Homo sapiens: one gene and its partner. The protein of the gene in region 1 purifies or fractionates together with the protein of each later gene. This does not show direct contact. Each region holds a gene or a part of one and is shown on either strand. Other genes may lie near its edges.

Region 1 (4,928 bases):
TGTAGTGCAATGGCACAATCTCGGCTCACTGCAACCTTCGCCTCCCGGGTTCAAGTGATTCTTCTGCCTCAACCTCCCGAGTAACTGGGATTATAGGCATGTGCCACCACGCCCAGCTAATTTTGTATTTTTAATAGAGATAGGGTTTCCCCATGTTGGTGGGGTTGGTCTTGAACTCTCAACCTCAGGTGATCCGCCCACCTCGGCCTCCCAAAGTGCTAGGATTCAGGCGTGAGCCACCGCACCTGGCCGTGGTCATGGATGCTATGGTGTGGTAAGGAGACAGGCAGTGAACATCCCAAAAACAAGTGCCAGGTGGTGATGTGTGCTGTGTTGGAGGTGATGCATAAGGGGAATGGGGTGCTCTAGTGAGGGGAGATGGTCTTCAGCAACAAGCCAGAGGAAGGGAGGGAATATTGAGAAGAGATGAGGAAGAACTAGCACACATAACTGAGAAAGAGGGCCAGGGAAGCAAAAGAAGAACCAACAGAAGGTCATGCCCTAGACGCAAGTGATGAAAATCAAGATGGAAGAGGTGATCGGCAGAGGATGAAGTTGAGAAACTGACCGCAGAGTTTAGCACTGCTGACTTGGATGAGAGCTGTTTTGGAAGACTAGTAGGGAAGAAAGCTGATTGCAACTGAGAGGTCATTTCTGCCCATGGTCGCATGAGAGATAGGTACAAGACATATCTCGTATCTCTTTCAGACACCACCTCTTGTATCCATGCAAGCCGAGGCTCCTATTTCTCATACCACCTCTTCCATGCAGCCCCCAGGTATTAGGGCCTCCTGTGTTTTAATTTTGTCCCATCCTCTCTGGAAGGTAGGAGGGAGATGCAGCCGTGAAGGATCATGGGCACTTCGTAAAAGCACTGAGCTTCCAGGCTGATGCAGGTCTAAGGCTGCCTTCTTTGCTGAACTGGAAAGGGTGATGCCCTGTGAAAGCTTATGGTCTGTCTGTGTACACAAAGAGCAGGTATCAGGCAGCAATAGGAGTGGGACCATGGCTGTAAATGCTCTGTGAGCACTGAGAAGGGAGGCGAGTTCTGAGGGGATGGGGTGGCCTTTAGAACGGGCATGGTGGCTCATGCCTATAATCCCAGCACTTTGGGAGGCTGAAGCAGGAGGATTGCTTGAGCCCGGGAGTTCACAACCAGCCTGGGCAACATAGCAAGACCCCATCTCTTAAAAATTATTTTTTTGTTTGTTAATTAGCTGGGTGTGATAGCATGCATCTATCTGTAGCCCTAGCTACTCAGGTGGCTAAGGCTGGAGGGTCCCTTGAGTCCAGGAGTTGAAGGCAGCAGTAAGCTATGATAACACCACTGTACTCCAGCCTGGGTGACAAAATGAGACCCCCATCTTTTAAAAAAAAAATTATTAGCCAGGCATGGTGGCGCTCACCTGTAGTCCCAGGTGCTTGGGAGGCTGAAGCAGGAGGATCGCTTGAACCCAGGAGGTCAAGGCTGCAATGAGCTGAGATTACGCCATTGCATTCCAGCCTGGGTGACAAAGTGAGACTCTGTCTCAAAATAAATAAATAAAATTTAAAAATTAAAAGAATTTACCTTCCTCATCCTCAAGAAAGTGTAGAAGTCAGATTTGGATGAAATCTATTGTCAGGGATTGGGGTTCTGGAAAGCTTCGCAGGGATGATGTTGCCCAGCCCAATTAGGGTGGTCTGGACAGATGTGCAAAGGCTGGAGACCTGCAAGAATGCAGCCTGTTGGGAAAGTATGTGTAGTTAGTCCTAAGGTCCAAGACTAGATCAAGAGGAAGTATAGACGCGAGAGTCGTGGGATCCCGGGCACATCGGCTGTGTTGAGTGTGGCGTGTGCCTCATGGGCTCCAGGGGAAGGAAGAAGAACACTTTGGCCAGAAATGCTCTCCTCCCCCATCCCACTCAAACCACTGAGTCTGGAGACGTGCTAAGTGTTGTTGGTTGTGGGCACCTTTAGTGATAACACCCTCCCCCTCTCCCCTCGCAGTGACCCAACAGGAGAAGACCCCACCGCCTAGACCCAGCCCGCTAGAGGCAGGCAGTGATGGCTGTGAGGAGCCGAAGCAGCAGGTGTCTTGGGAGCAGGAGTTCCTGGTGGGCAGCAGCCCAGGAGGCAGCGGGCGGGCACTGTGCATGGTGTGTGGCGCTGAGATCCGGGCACCCTCGGCCGACACAGCTCGCTCGCACATCTTGGAGCAGCACCCTCACACCTTGGACCTGAGCCCTTCTGAGAAGAGCAATATCCTGGAGGCCTGGAGTGAAGGGGTGGCCCTCTTGCAAGACGTGAGAGCTGAGCAGCCGTCCCCACCCAACTCAGGTAGTTGGTCCTGGGGCTGGCGAAGGGAGAAGTCGGACTTGTTGGGGCACTAGAAGCTCATTGTGCTCTTGCTCCCTGCAGACTCGGGCCAGGATGCCCACCCAGACCCAGACGCCAACCCAGACGCTGCCAGAATGCCAGCCGAAATCGTCGTTCTCCTTGACTCTGAGGATAACCCATCCCTCCCTAAAAGGAGCCGGCCCAGGGGACTCCGCCCCCTCGAGCTTCCTGGTTAGTCAACAGAGAAGCCAGTGAGCCCCGGTGGAGGTGGGGGTTTGGGGACAGGGTGAAATACAGGCCCTGTGTTCTGGGCAGGTATCTTCAGGAGCCCTGGGGTGGCAGGGTTCGGGGATGGCCTCTTTAAAAGGGTATGAGGTCTTTTCTTTTTGCAGCTGTCCCTGCCACAGAGCCAGGAAATAAGAAGCCCCGTGGTCAGAGATGGAAGGAACCCCCAGGGGAAGAGCCAGTCAGAAAGAAAAGAGGCAGACCTATGACCAAAAACCTGGACCCTGACCCAGGTGAAGGGGAGGCCCGGGGGAGGCGTGGGCTCTGGCCGCAGTGCTCTGAGGAAATCCGCATCAGTGAGGATGGAGCAGGGCCTGGGCGCAGGGCGCCTGCAGCTCCTGAGGCTTTTTCACTCACAGTTCCATCCCGTCCTCCCTTCCAGAGCCCCCATCGCCAGACTCGCCCACGGAGACTTTCGCAGCACCAGCCGAGGTCCGACACTTCACTGACGGCAGCTTCCCCGCCGGCTTCGTCTTGCAGCTCTTCTCCCACACCCAGCTCAGGGGCCCAGACAGCAAGGACTCACCCAAAGACAGGGAAGTGGCAGAAGGAGGCCTTCCCCGGGCGGAGAGCCCCTCTCCAGGTGAGCCCTCCTGAGAGGGAAGCACAGTAGGGACCTCGCAGGCAGCGCTCCTGGGCCAGGCCTCAGAGAGGCTGCTCTATGGCAGAGCCCACAGTAGGGGTGGGTGGGGTGGGTGGGGTGGGTGGTGCTCAGGTTTCCTGGTACACGGGGCCGGGGCAGGGGATCTGAATGATGAGGAAGGCTGGCCTGAAAGCTGAGCTTTTCTTTTTCTGTTTGTTTGTTTTTTGAGACGGAATCTTGCTCTGTTGCCCAGGCTGGCATGTAGTAGCACAAGCCCGGCTCACTACAACCTCTGCCTCCCAGGTTCAAGCAATTCTCCTGCCTCACCCTCCCTAGTAGCTGGGATTACAGGCGTGCGCCACCATACCCGGCTAATTTTTGTATTTTTAGTAGAGACAGGGTTTTCCCATGTTGGCCAGGTTGGTCTCAAACTCTTGACCTCAGGTGATCCAACTGCCTTGGCCTCGCAAAGTACACCACGCCTGGCCTATTTTTTTATTTTTTATTTTTTGAGACAAGAGTCTTGCTCTGTCGCCCAGGCTGGAGTGCAGTGGCGCGATCTCGGTTCAGTGCATCCTCTGCTTCCCAGGTTCAAGCGATTCTCCTGCCTCACCCTCCTGAGTAGCTGGGATTACAGGCGTGTGCCACCATGCCCAGCTAATTTTTGTATTTTTAGTAGAGACAGGGTTTCGCCATGTTGGCCAGGCTGGTCTCGAACTCCTGACCTCAGGTGATCCACCTGCCTCAGCCTCCCAAACTGCTAGGATTACAGGCGTGAGCCACCGCACCTGACCAGGTGGGCTTTTCTTAGTGTTTCCTTGTTTCCTGGAATTGGTCACTGGGTCCGGGTAGGCCAGTGTTTCCCAGAAGCCTGATACTGATTTCCACACATGCAGTTTGTTCTAGCTAGAGCCTGAGGGGTGCCCACCTTACCCTGGTGGAGCTGAGGCCCAGATGGGGCCACTCAGCAATTCAGTTAGGTGTCCAGAGAATAGATAAGATGAGCAGTGGACAGACACCTCCAGGGGACACCAGCTCAGTAAATTGCCTCATAACAGCAGTAAGTGCTTGTGTTGTTTGGGCTCCTACTGAGTTTAAGAAGCTTACATACAAGGCAAGTCGTGGTGGCTCACGCCTGTAATCCCAGCACTTTGGCAGGCTGAGGCGGGCAGATCACCTGAGGTCGGGAGTTTGAGACCAACCTGGCCGATATGGCGAAACCTCATCTCTACTAAAAATATAAAAATTAGCCAGGTGTGGTGGCAGGCGCCTGTAATCCCAGCTACTTGGGAGGCTGAGGCAGGAGAATTGCTTGAACCTGGGAGGTGGAAGTTGCAGTGAGCCGAGATTGCGCCACTGCACTCCAGCCTGGGCAACAGAGTGAAACTCTGTCTCCAAAAAAAAAAAAAAAAAAGAAGCTTACATACAGTTTATTTGGCCCTTACAAAAATAACTTGTATAGAAGGGCAGATGTCCATTCCTTTTTCCAAAAGGGAAAACCATTTCTCAAAGAAATGGTTCCTTCTTCCCCATGGTCCTTATGTCAGTTTCCTATTTGCTGCTGTAACAAATCACACAAATCTAATGGCTTAAAACAACACACATCGGGCCGGGCGCGGTGGCTCACGCCTGTAATCCCAGCACTTTGGGAGGCTGAGACGGGCGGATCACGAGGTCAGGAGATCGAGACCATCCTGGCTAACACGGTGAAACCCCGTCTCTACTAAAAATACAAAAATT
Region 2 (4,705 bases), on another chromosome or scaffold:
AGAAGTTAACCAACACCACCTGTTCCCCAGTAACCTATGGAAAGAAAGAAATGTCTCATATGTTTCTGCCTAAATTGGTCTTTAATACTTTAGCGATTCTCTTGAGTTTGGATTATAAAATAGTTTTTGGTCTTTTTGTATTTTCTGCTGTAAGCCTGTATGATTATGTAATGGTGAGTAAAATTGCTAGGCCAGATACGCAGTTCTAGGAAGTTATGCAAAGATGTGCTTTAGTATATTATTTTCTACCTTTTTAAATTCATTTTGAGCTTGGCTTTTGAGCCTCTATTTTCCAAGGTGGGGTGTATGTTTTTATAATGTTATGCTTAGCCCTTGTGTATTTTCATCTCTGAGTTTGAAATTTGGGGTTATATTGGCAAAGGGAGGTTTGGGTTTTAATTAGGTGACCTGTTAGAGGAAATGTTAAGCTTCTGTTTCTTTAGGGTAGACAGTGAGAGATTTATCAAGATAAAGAAGAAAAATAAATCCTAAAGTTAATATTCAATACATGATGATGTCACCCTTACTAAAGCCAAAGAGGGCATTATCCTATCATTCTCATCGCTAAGAACTCTTCTCCTCTTGGCACATGCTTATTCAGTTAAAGATAAGCCAAGCCTTTCTTTTGTATTTTTTTTTTAAGAGAACAAATTTACTTTGGTTTTGAGTTTTATTCCTGGCTCTGGGTAGCTTATTTTTTTGACCCTTATTTTCCCCAATTTATAAAATGAAATAGTTATCTTCACTCCCCAGGATTGTTGTGAAGAGTAAGTCAAAAGATACAATGAGGTGACTCAGGCAAAAGTACCTGGCCCTGTGTAGTGAGTACATTGTATGTGTTACATATATTCTTATTCCTGAGAATCCACGAAAGAATGAATTAAATAATGAGGACCCTTTCATCAGGGTTTCTGAGTGAGTTTTTTAAAATACAAGGTAGTAGTTTGTGTAAATACTAAATCCATTGGTACCTGTGCAGAATGTAGGAAATGGAGTTGCTAATTCCAAAAAAACAGCACATATGCTGAGGAAAGTATAATACGTAATATATATGGTTTAAGCAATGTAAAATTCCATGAATATGTTCCTTTCATCTTAAAATTTGTGATTTAAAAAACATTGATATTACTATAAAGAATTATTATTATTTCCCTTGATTTACAGAGTATTGTTACAATCACATTTGAAGTACCAGGAAATGCAAAGGAAGAACATCTTAATATGTTTATTCAGGTGAATGCAATTTTTAACTGATTAATGATTTATCAATGGTTTTGTTACATAGTTGTTGCTATTAGCGATGGTTGGTCTTATTAAAATATGTCACTTGATACAGAATCTTCTGTGGGAAAAGAATGTGAGAAACAAGGACAATCACTGCATGGAGGTCATAAGGCTGAAGGTACAGTTTACTGTTGCAGACTTTTGGACAAAGTCCTTTTCTTGGCTGTTATAAAAACTATATTTGGTTTTAAACAGAAACACTGGTTTTAGTACAAATCATCTTTGTCTACTTTCATTTTTCTTTATTATTTTCATGACTGAAAAGGAGCTTTGGAAATCACTGCATAAGGCTTGATTTATTTGCACAACTTTCTTTAGGGTTGCAGCTAGAACAAACCTGTGTGCTTTGAAATGTTACCTTCTGCTCTCTGTTCCCAAGTACAGAGAAATAATGTTGCAAATCTCACTTCTGCTGAACATTATGCTTCCTGATGCATTTAGCAGACACTAAACATTTGTTGTACTCTAAACAAAGTTACAAAGGACTAGAAGAATTCTTGTTCTGTATTTAGAAACCCACTCACATTACTTGATATTTGGGTATTTAAGTCATGAAAGGTATTTCTTCTAGGAAGCAGTGATTCTAAAGTGTATGCTTAACCAGTCAGTTGAGTGTCTACTCTTGTGTGTTCACAAGTGTGCACAAAGTTTTTGGTAAATTAAGAATATTATTTCAAATAAATTAATTTCATCCCCATAGGAGCCAGTTTATCAGATAATTCGTTTCTCATTTCTGCAAATCAATACACAATGAGCTCATATTCAGATAAATTGAGCTCATATCCAGATAAATATAATAGTTTTTCTTTATTTCAACATTGTTCATTGATTGCAACCCATTTCTAAAACAAATTATTTAATATAACAAAACTCCTTTAACTTCTCAACTTTTCCCACTAAAACTGTGAAACATTATATAAAATCTTTAATCAATAGGATATGATACATATTTCATCATTTTGTTTCAGGTTTTGGTTGTGATAAATAACACTGAAAAACCATCCTAATATATGTATTAACTTTATCATTAGAAAAGGGGATTGTTCAAAAAAAAATCAATACACAGAAACCTTTTTTGAAAATTAAAAACATTAAGAAACTTCTTGTAATTCACAAATAATTGGAATTAAGTAATTTTCTCAGCTTAAGAGTTTGTATTTTTTAAGTGAATATCAGTAATTAATCCATTAACATTGATGCTCTATTTCTGCTTTTAAGTTTGAACTGAGGCTGATTAATGTTCAGTCAATTCTCCTTTGAGCAGGGATTGGTGTCAATCAAAGACAAATCACAACAAGTGATTGTCCAGGGTGTCCATGAGCTCTATGATCTGGAGGAGACTCCAGTGAGCTGGAAGGATGACACTGAGAGAACAAATCGATTGGTCCTCATTGGTAAGTCTCAAAGGATTCACAGTTTTGAAACAAAGTGAAAAATATATTTGAAAGGGATATCATGTGCCACTTAAACAGATTAACCATTCAGGTCCTCTTTTAAAACTAAATAAGCTTGTGGTCAATGTTTCATCTTTGTCACATTACAACGTTCGTAAAAGCTTGTTAGGACTTTTGTTCTTCTTCAATTTTAGAAAAGTGGTTAATCCAAGGACCAATGTGACTTTGATGTACTGACCTGGAAAGTTAAAGATGGAATCACTCAATTACTATTCTTTTTGTAAATTTTTAAACACCATAAAGCATTTAATGAACTGGAATTGATAGGTGAACTGTGTCATTTTAATAAGCATAATGTAATCACGTCATATTTTGTTTTGTTTGCAGGCAGAAATTTAGATAAGGATATCCTTAAACAGCTGTTTATAGCTACTGTGACAGAAACAGAAAAGCAGTGGACAACACATTTCAAAGAAGATCAAGTTTGTACATAACACTAGAGGCATTTCTTATCAAAAGGATTGGATAATAAAAATAAGTTTCTACTGGGTATATTTCAAGCATTTATTTATTACTTTAGTTACGAATTCCAATATACTTTAAAATGGTATTTGTTTTACAGCATACATAAAATGTAGCAAATCAGTACTGTAAAACATTTAACATTCATACAATTATATATAATATCCTTTTTTTTAAAGAATGGTATTTCACAAAAATATCTTTTGAAATTGGCTTTGGAGTTTACATATACTGAACATGAAAGTTTATAATAATGATGATACAACTTTCAACATTGTCATTTTTTCTTAGAACTTCAGCTGATTGCAGAGATATAATGATTACATTGTTATTAAATTTTTTTAACACAAGTAAGTGTCACCATTTTATGACATGAAATAAAAGGTTATGACTGTTATTGATGTTGATGTTGACGACCTGATCACCTGGCTGAAGGAGTGTTTGTCAGGTTTCTCCATTGTAAAGTTACTCTTTTCCCCCATTTCATACTGTGCTCTTTGGAAGGAAATCACTATGCACAGCCCACACTAAAGGAATGGGGAGTTGTAGTGTACTTTCTTGGGAGTGGTCTACATAATTAATTGAAATTCTTCTGCGAGGGACAGTTGTCCCTTTCGCTTTATTAGTTCGATCATTTATGTTTATCAGTGTGGACACATGAATATTTTATACTTTGGGTTACAATTTAATACTACTTTATTTTGTTGCTCAAATTATCCCAGCTTTGACCATTGGGAACTCTTTCCGTTATCTCCTGTTCCCCCCTTTGACATACCCCCATCAATGTGGGTTTTGTGTTTTGTTTTTGAGCGCCTCCTTATTTTTCTCCTGTATTTTTAAATAACCCCAATCCCTATTGAAGCTGGCTCTAGGAAAACTAACAATACTCCCTTTCCCAGGTCATCCGATTCCTATGCTGATGGAGGAAATTTGCCTCACATGCTGGGGGGCGCTGGGGAGGAGGTGTCTGGGATTATGTGGTTGAATAAGACACCTGGCCTGGCCCTCCTGGAGCTTAGTTTAGTAGGTCACACAAGCAGTCATTGGTAAATTTGGGATTCAAACAAATCTGTTAGGCTCAAACCTGTCTGTTATTTGTCCTCCAAGCTTCATATAAACTGAGGAGCCTTAAAGGGTAAAAACTTCAGGAGCAGCAAAGTTTCAAAAAAAGATCAGCAAGAAAGCTCTTTTCCAGATTTTATCCTGAAGGCACTAGCTACTTTAAGCTATTTTTTATTATATTTTGCCCTTGCAGTTGGCGTTTGATTTCTCACTGAACATTCATTGTCATAATTATAGACACTATGTGACTATCAAGGGCATAATATTCTTTCATGCTGCATTTTTATTAGATGGCACCTCAAAGTTTTCCCAAGTAGGTGGGTTTTAAATTATGAATATATACCGTGGCATAGTATCTTACTTAGTATTTTAATAAGATTCTTATTTATATAACAAATTTTTTTTATTCCTCTGTAGTGCTACTTTAGTCTCTGAGCTAATTT

What was found. Proteins that work in one complex are often made in the same cells at the same time.
Region 2: the proteins of SPINDOC (region 1) and ZNG1C purify together in Homo sapiens (affinity purification with mass spectrometry; one large-scale study listed by BioGRID and IntAct). This does not show direct contact.

Annotation. Positions count from the first base shown.
Region 1 is NC_000011.10:63,815,815-63,820,742, forward strand, and holds part of SPINDOC (spindlin interactor and repressor of chromatin-binding protein), read left to right. Parts: intron 1-1,990; coding exon 1,991-2,320; intron 2,321-2,401; coding exon 2,402-2,551; intron 2,552-2,712; coding exon 2,713-2,838; intron 2,839-2,987; coding exon 2,988-3,188; intron 3,189-4,928. UniProt on the Homo sapiens protein: Chromatin protein that stabilizes SPIN1 and enhances its association with histone H3 trimethylated at both 'Lys-4' and 'Lys-9' (H3K4me3K9me3).
Region 2 is NC_000009.12:68,296,416-68,301,120, forward strand, and holds the end of ZNG1C (zinc-regulated GTPase metalloprotein activator 1C), read left to right. Parts: intron 1-1,164; coding exon 1,165-1,233; intron 1,234-1,336; coding exon 1,337-1,402; intron 1,403-2,548; coding exon 2,549-2,678; intron 2,679-3,065; coding exon 3,066-3,172; 3' UTR 3,173-3,620; downstream 3,621-4,705.